Linked DNA regions of Homo sapiens. The protein of the gene in region 2 purifies or fractionates together with the protein of the main gene of each other region. This does not show direct contact. Each region holds a gene or a part of one and is shown on either strand. Other genes may lie near its edges. The genes, in order: UPK1B and UPK3A.

Evidence for each region.
Region 1: the proteins of UPK3A (region 2) and UPK1B purify together in Homo sapiens (affinity purification with western blotting, with the first as the bait; one study listed by BioGRID). This does not show direct contact.

Annotation. Positions count from the first base shown.
Region 1 is NC_000003.12:119,193,793-119,197,609, forward strand, and holds part of UPK1B (uroplakin-1b), read left to right. Parts: intron 1-426; coding exon 427-606; intron 607-3,817. UniProt on the Homo sapiens protein: Component of the asymmetric unit membrane (AUM); a highly specialized biomembrane elaborated by terminally differentiated urothelial cells.
Region 2 is NC_000022.11:45,287,799-45,291,615, forward strand, and holds part of UPK3A (uroplakin-3a isoform 1 precursor), read left to right. Parts: intron 1-1,262; coding exon 1,263-1,345; intron 1,346-3,817. UniProt on the Homo sapiens protein: Component of the asymmetric unit membrane (AUM); a highly specialized biomembrane elaborated by terminally differentiated urothelial cells. May play an important role in AUM-cytoskeleton interaction in terminally differentiated urothelial cells.

The DNA.
Region 1 (3,817 bases), on a different chromosome or scaffold from region 2:
ATATCAATATATTAGTACAGTATCAATCATAATTAACATTTATTAAGAGTTTACCATAAGCCAGGCACTGTATTGAGCACATTAAGTATATTAACTCATTTAATCCTTAAAAAAACTCTATGAGATAGGTACTATATTCCAATTTTACAGTTAAGGAAACTGAGGCTTAGACAGTTTAAGTAACATGTCAATGGCTACAGGGTTCACTAATGACTAGTAAAGTAGGAAGTGTAAAAATTCTTTTACAAACTGTAAAATGTAAGTTGTAAGTTATCAATACCTTCAGCTGTCATTTGGGGATTTCTTAGTAAATGTAAGATATGGTACACTTTCCGTATCTTCTTTCTCTATAAAATTTCAGTTGCTACATTGATGGCTCTAGTAGGGACCACGAAAGAGAATTTTGTATCTCTCATCTGCTGACAGGACAATTGCTGTGGCGTAAATGGTCCATCAGACTGGCAAAAATACACATCTGCCTTCCGGACTGAGAATAATGATGCTGACTATCCCTGGCCTCGTCAATGCTGTGTTATGAACAATCTTAAAGAACCTCTCAACCTGGAGGCTTGTAAACTAGGCGTGCCTGGTTTTTATCACAATCAGGTGAGTCCTCTCTCCTCCCAAGACTTCCCAGGAGGTTCTGCTGCTCTTTATGAGAAAAATATTGGTCAACTGTAGGAAATAGTCTTTCAGTAAGGAATTCTACATTCTTTTCCCTAAACCTCATGTTAACTATTTCCTTCTCTGTTAATAAACTGCAAATGCTAAACCAGGACTGATAGGGGCAAATTTACATTTTAATAAAATTAACAAAACATGAGAATTGCAATAGCAGAACCCAACTTTGTTTAAATGAAGACAATTTGCACAATGTATGGAATTGGTATGTCAAGAAATATTTACATTAAACAAAGTTTTGCTCTAGTTTTGCAAAATGTAAATTGGAAGGGATGATGTGCAAAAAGAATGTTTTGCCAATTCCAAAGCAATGACTATTGCTGAGGATAAATGTAGTAATTACACATCCACATTCCTTATTCAATGGTAAAGTAGGACAGTCTTAATAAACATTAGGTTGGTGATTTGGATGGAAGGTAGTTTACATACAGATAGTTTTTGAAAAAGTTTCCAGGCTGATGAGGATAATGTGATTACGATCATGAAAACTAACATTTATTGTGTACTTACTAAATGCCAAACACTGTTTCCAGTGCCACACATACACTATCTCCTTTAATGCTCAGTAGTAGGTGCCAGTAGGATCCCTGTTTTACAAACGAAGAACTTAGACGTAGAGATACTAATAAATACCTTGCTGAGGTCACACAACTAGTAAATGTCCGTCTTTTCAAAAAACTCTCTGGCTTTTGAAACATGAGTTTTCTGCCTTCAAGCACAGACTCTAAGCCAGTGAAGACTTGTTAATATTCCCCAAAAGCCCTGATGAGAACCTCCAGGTACTTGTAGTCAGCATCTGCTGACCCTGTACACTGAAACGCTGTGCTCTGCTCAGGGAGTTACCTCTTTAAGGAAAGCTAGTTGTGTACCAGCTCATTAAATAATTGAGAAATGTCAGGCTGTTTTGTTTGGGAGCAGTACAAACTGCATGTTCAGATTGAGGGACATGGCACTGTTGCTGACAGGGTGCCTGGACTAGAACTGGATGCATTATTCCAGAAAAGGGCATGGGAGTGTTCTAGATTATTTTGCAGCAGTGTCCAGAGCAACCCTCATTGAGCTTTACTGCAACATTGTCTGGCATTGTTTTAATCAATTATATTCAGACTGTTATTAAAAATTAAATTTGCTGCTTATAATCAAGGTGTACAATATAATTATTCTCAGGACTATAAAAGGCTTTTGATATTTCAACACTGGAACTGCTCATGCAAACAAATCTTGATTGGATTGTAATTGTGTACAAACTGTATTACCTCTTTGAAAGGGATAAAAATAGGACATTTGTCTTCAGATAACCAGTTTATTTCATAGTTATACCTTTTTTCCTAGCACATATAATATTTTAGTTATGAGGACAAACCTGAAGCTTTTCTCAAGTTTAGATAGATGAGAAATTGAGGAAAAGATACAAATGAACTATTTTCCTCTACCTTGGGACCTCCACACCCATTTTGACAATGCTTCTAACACGTTCCCTTACAGTTCCCTGGCCTCATCTGTTCTAACAATTCCACCTCCACTACCCTACAGTTCCCTGGCTTTATCTGTTCTAACAACTCCACCTCCACTACCTACCAACTACAAATTCATCATCACTCAGCCCTACTCCTCCACCAAATTCCTGAATTCTGAAATTCCTCTCTCTGTTCCTGACTTCCTGTGCTCCTTGTTTCTCAACCTCACTCATTCTGCTCCTTTGACATAATCTCTTATCTATTAGTCCTTTCTGATTCTCCCTAGCCCAGCCTCCCAGATTCCCACACACCACCATTCTCCCTGACTCATAGGTCTTGCTAAGTCCCCTCTTGCCATCCTTTTCCACCAAGAAAAAGGTGCTACCCCAAGACCTGGTATACTTTATTTCTATTATTGCATTCACTACCTGGAACTATATTTGTTCCCAAGTCTATTTTTTCTGAGTCTCCTTGAGGACTATGTATTATTTGATTCTACAGATTTGATATTTTTAGTACTTAGCATAATGCCTGGCACAAAGCAAGCACCGACGTTTGATAGATGGGTGAATAAAGAAGTGAATAGTGAATGGTTTTTCTTTTTCTTTTTTTTTTTTTTTTTTTGAGATGGAGCCTGTCTCACTCTGTCGCCAGGCTGGAGTGCAGTGGCGCTATCTCGGCTCACTGCAACCTCCACCTCCCAGGTTCAAGTGATTCTCCTGCCTCAGCCTCCCAAGTAGCTGGGACTACAGGTGCACGCAACCACACCCAGCTAATTTTTGTATTTTTAGTAGAGATGGGGTTTCACCATGTTGGCCAGGATGGTCTCGATCTCTTGACCTTGTGATCCACCCACCTCAGCCTCCCAAAGTGCTGGGATTAAAGGAGTGAGCCACCGTGCCCAGCCTGGTTTTTGTTTTGTTTTGTTTGAGAGACAGGGTCTCACTCTGTCACCCAAGCTGGAGTGCCATGCTGCAATCACAGCTTATTGCAGCCTCAAGCTCCTGGGCTCGAGTGATCCTCCTTTCCACCTCAGCCTCCCAACTAACTACAGGCATGTACCACCAGGCCTGGCTAATTTTATTTTTTGTAGAGATGAGGTCTCACTGTGTTGCCCAGGCTTCACTTTTTGACAACCATATTGTAGGTTTTCAGGATCTACAATGCACAAATGTGCTGCTATAGCTGTGAAGACTAACAAAATTAGGGAAGTCACTATAAGCTTGTTAATAGTAGAAATTAACTAGAATTTCACACAGCATGTCAGATGCAAATATATATATATTCTATGTTATGGTTTATGTGACTCAGAAATGCTATGTGCAAATTGTGATCACTATACCTCAAAAATGTTATAATAAAATGAAGGAAGATCAAGTAAAGTACCACTAAATTGACTAGCATCACGAAAAGGCACTAAATGATGGTGAAAAAAATGGGGCTTCTGTCTGTGAGCTTCATGAAGGCAAGGCCCATTTCTGTTTGCCACAGCTAAATGCCCAGCCAGTACTTGGCACCTGGCATAAGTGGGCCCTTATATATATATTATTAGATGAACGACCACCTCCCAGGATTGTTGGGAGGACCAAGGAGTAGCAGATATGGGAGTGTTTTGTGAACCATCAAGTGTGTTGCAAATTATACTATTGTAAACATTAATGTTCCATTCATTCTGTAAA
Region 2 (3,817 bases):
ATTACAGGTGCACACCACCATGCCCGGCTAATTTTTTGTGTTTTTAGTACAGATGGGGTTTCATCATGTTGGTCAAGCTGGTCTCGAACTCCTGACCTCCAGTGATCAGCCTGCTTTGGCCTCCTCCATAGTATTGGGTTACGGGCGTGAGCTGCCATGCCTGGCCCATCTTGAAATTCTTAATTGTTGAACAAGGGCCCACATTTTCATTTTGCTCTGGGGCCCACAGATTATGCAGCTGGTCCTGGCCCATCTACGTGTGTGGAAGTCACCCACCCAAACCCCTTCGTCTTACAGGAAAGGAAACTGTGCCAGAGAGGGAAGGTCACCCAGTGGAAAGCTGGGGCCCAGCATGAACAGAAACCCTACCAAAGCCTTGCCATCTGCAGCCTCAACTTCTGCTTTTTTTTTTTTGAGATGGAGTTTCGCTCTTGTTGCCCAAGGTGGAGTGCAGTGGTGCAATCTCGGCTCACCACAACCTCTGCCTCCCGGGTTCAAGCGATTCTCCTGCCTCAGCCTCCTGAGTAGCTGGGACTACAGGCGCCCCCACCACGCCTGGCTACTTTTGTTTTTGTATTTTTAGTAGAGACGGGGTTTCACTGTGTCAGCCAGAATGGTCTCGATCTCCTGACCTCATGATCCGCCCGCCTCAGCCTCCCAAAGTGCTGGGATTACAGGCGTCAGGCACTGCGCCCGGCCCATTTTTGTATTTTTAGTAGAGACAGGGTTTTGCCATGTTGGCCAGGCTGGTCTCGAGCCCCTGACCTCAGGTGATCTGCCCGCCTCAGCCTCCCAAACTGTTGGGATTACAGGCGTGAGCCACCATGCCCAGCTTCAGCCTTTTTCTTTTTCAGTTTTCTTTGTGATGCCAAGGAGCAGGCTTGGAGTCACGGAAGGCAGAAATGCAAGGAAGACAGATGCATTAGTGCTCAGCAACTATGCCACGTGTGTTACATGGAGGAAAGAAATGGAGGGGAGCTCTAAGAGGGAGCGCCTAGAAGGGCAGCTTCTGATTCTGAAGGCTTCATGGATGCAGGAGGTGGCAGCTGATCCAGGGAGGGGTCCTGGGGGGGGTCCTATTGGCCAAGCTCAGCACTGTCCTGTTGCCCAGAGCCCGCTCAGTAGCCGTCTACATTTCCGTCTCCTGGAAGGGCCCCCGCTGCCGTCTCCCACCCCTAGGCCATCCTACATCCCCCCACCGCCTCCCTGTGGGTGGGGCTCACAGGAAGCATAAAAGTCACCCTGGCTCCGTCTCCTTCCAGGTTCAAGTATGTCCTGGTCAATATGTCCACGGGCTTGGTAGAGGACCAGACCCTGTGGTCAGACCCCATCCGCACCAACCAGCGTAAGTGGTGGGCAGTGGTGGTGGTGATGCTCAAGGGGACCCGAGAAGGCGGGGCCAGCCACGGCGGTGAGAACCAAGGCTCCTCTGTCCCTGTGAAAGCCTCCCAGGCCAGGCAGTGATGAGTAAAATGCTCCTTAAAGCTGTTGAGCCAGGCCAGGTGTGGTGGCTCACATCTGTAATCCCAGCCTTTGGGAGGCTGAGGCAGGTGGATCACGAGGTCAGGAGATCGAGACCATCCTGGCTCACACGGTGAAACCCCGTCTCTCCTAAAAATACAAAAACAAAAGTAGCCAGGCGTGGTGGGGGTGCCTTTAGTCCCAGCTACTCGGGAGGCTAAGGCGGGAGAATAGCGTGAACCCGGGAGGTGGAGCTTGCAGTGAGCCAAGATGACACCACTGCATTCCAGCCTGGGCGACAGAGTGAGACTCCGTCTCAAAAAAAAAAAAAAAAGAAAAAAAAAATTAGCTGGGCGTGGTGGCACGTGCCTGTAATCCCAGCTACTTGGGAGGCTGAGGGAGGAGAATCGCTTGAACTGGGGAGTCAGAGGTTGCAGTGAGCCGAGATCACGCCACAGCACTCCAGCCTGGTGACAGAGTGAGACTCTGTCTCAAAAAAAAAAAAAAAGTCGTTGAACCTGGAACTTCCTCCTTCCTCCTTTCCATCCTTGAGGGCCAGGTGTGGGAACAGATCAAGGTGCAGGCCTTGGTGGCATTTGGGCTGGGGATGGGTGTAAGCGGATCAAAGCCGGCCCATTCCTCCGTCTCTCCAGCCCTTACAGTGGGTTGGCCTCAAAGGCACGCGGAGCTGACCCGGCATTTACGTCCTAACCAGCCCCTTTGCTAAATCCTCATAGCAGCAAGCACCCTATGGCCAGGTAAGATGTTTCCAAGGCCTAAAACCAAGATGGCAAAGGCAGCAAGGAACCGCTCTCCTTCCCTGCACACCTACTCCTTAGCACCTGGGCGGCTTTCCTGAGGTGGAACGCCAGGGTGCTGCGCTGTTCCTTGCTCAGCAGAGACCCAAAGTTCATATACAGAGTCGAGTCTGCTGAATGACAGGGGCCACGCCAGGGTCTTTGATGGTAATTTTGGGCAAATGATATCCTAACTTAAGACCTCCTCCCGCCACACCTTGGCCCCCAAGACGAGGCTGTCTGGCAGGATGAGTGTCAGGGTCCTGTGCATTTCACCTGCAGAGCCTCCTGTTGAGCCCATGTGCACCCCCAGGGGCGTGGGGGGCTCTGAAAGGTTGCCTGAAGTCACACGCGAGTGGGTGGTAGAAAGCCTTGTGTGTGAGTATGTGAGTGCCCGTGCCTGTTGTGGTATGTCTATGTGTGTGTGTTTGTGTTGCGTGTGGCGTGTGGTAACTGTATAATGTAGTTTACGGTGTTGCGTATGTGTGTGAGTGGTGTGTGAGTGTGAGAATGTGTGTGGTATGTGGTGTGTGGAGAGTATGTGAGGAGTGTGGTGTGGATGAGTGTGACAGTGTGTGGTGTATATCAGGGGTCCCCAACCCCTGGGCCATGGACCAGTACCAGTCCATGGCCTGTTAGGAACGGGACCGCGCAGCAGGAGGTGAGCAGTGGGCGAGTGAAACTTCATCTGCATTTGCAGCCGCTCCCTGTAGCTCGCATTACTGCCTGAGCTCCGCCTCCTGTCAGATCAGCAGTGGCATTAGAGTGTCACGGGAGCGCGAACCCTGTTGTGAACTGCGCATGCCAGGGATTAGGTTGCATGCTCCTCACGAGAATCTCATGCCCGATGATGTGTCACTGTCTCCCATCACCCCAGATGGGACCGTCTACTTGCAGGAAAACAAGCTCAGGGCTCCCACTGATTCTACATGATGATGAGTTGTACAATCATTTTATTATATATGGCAAAGTAATAATATAGAAATAAGGTGCACAATAACTGCATATAAGGTGCTTGAATCATCCCGAAACCACCCCCAGCCCACTCCCGTCTGCAGAAAACCTGTCTTCCACAAAACCGATCCCTGGTGCCAAAAAGGCTGGGGACTGCTGGTATATGTGGTGTGTGGTGGGGTTGTGTGTGTGAATATGAGGGTGTGTGTGGTTAGTGTGAGAGTATGTGTGGTGTGTGAGTGTGAGAGTGTGTGTGGTGTGGGTGGTGTATGTGGTGTGTGGTGGGGGTGTGTGTGAATGAGGGTGTGTGTGGTGTGTGTGGTTAGCGTGAGAGTATGTCTGGTGTGTGTGAGAGTGGTGTGGGTGGTGTATGTGTGTGTGGTGTGTGGGTGGTGTGAGAGTGTGTATTGTATGTGTGTGGTGTGTGTGGTGTGAGAGTGTGGCAGGTGTGTGTGTGAGTTTGAGTTGTGTGATGTGTGTGGTGTGTGAGTGTGAGAGTGTGTGTGTGAGTTGGAATGTGTGTTGTGTGGTGTGTTAGAGTGTGGCAGTGTGTGTGCGTGTGTAAGAGTTTGAGTTGGTGTGTGGTGTCTGAGTGTGACTGTGTG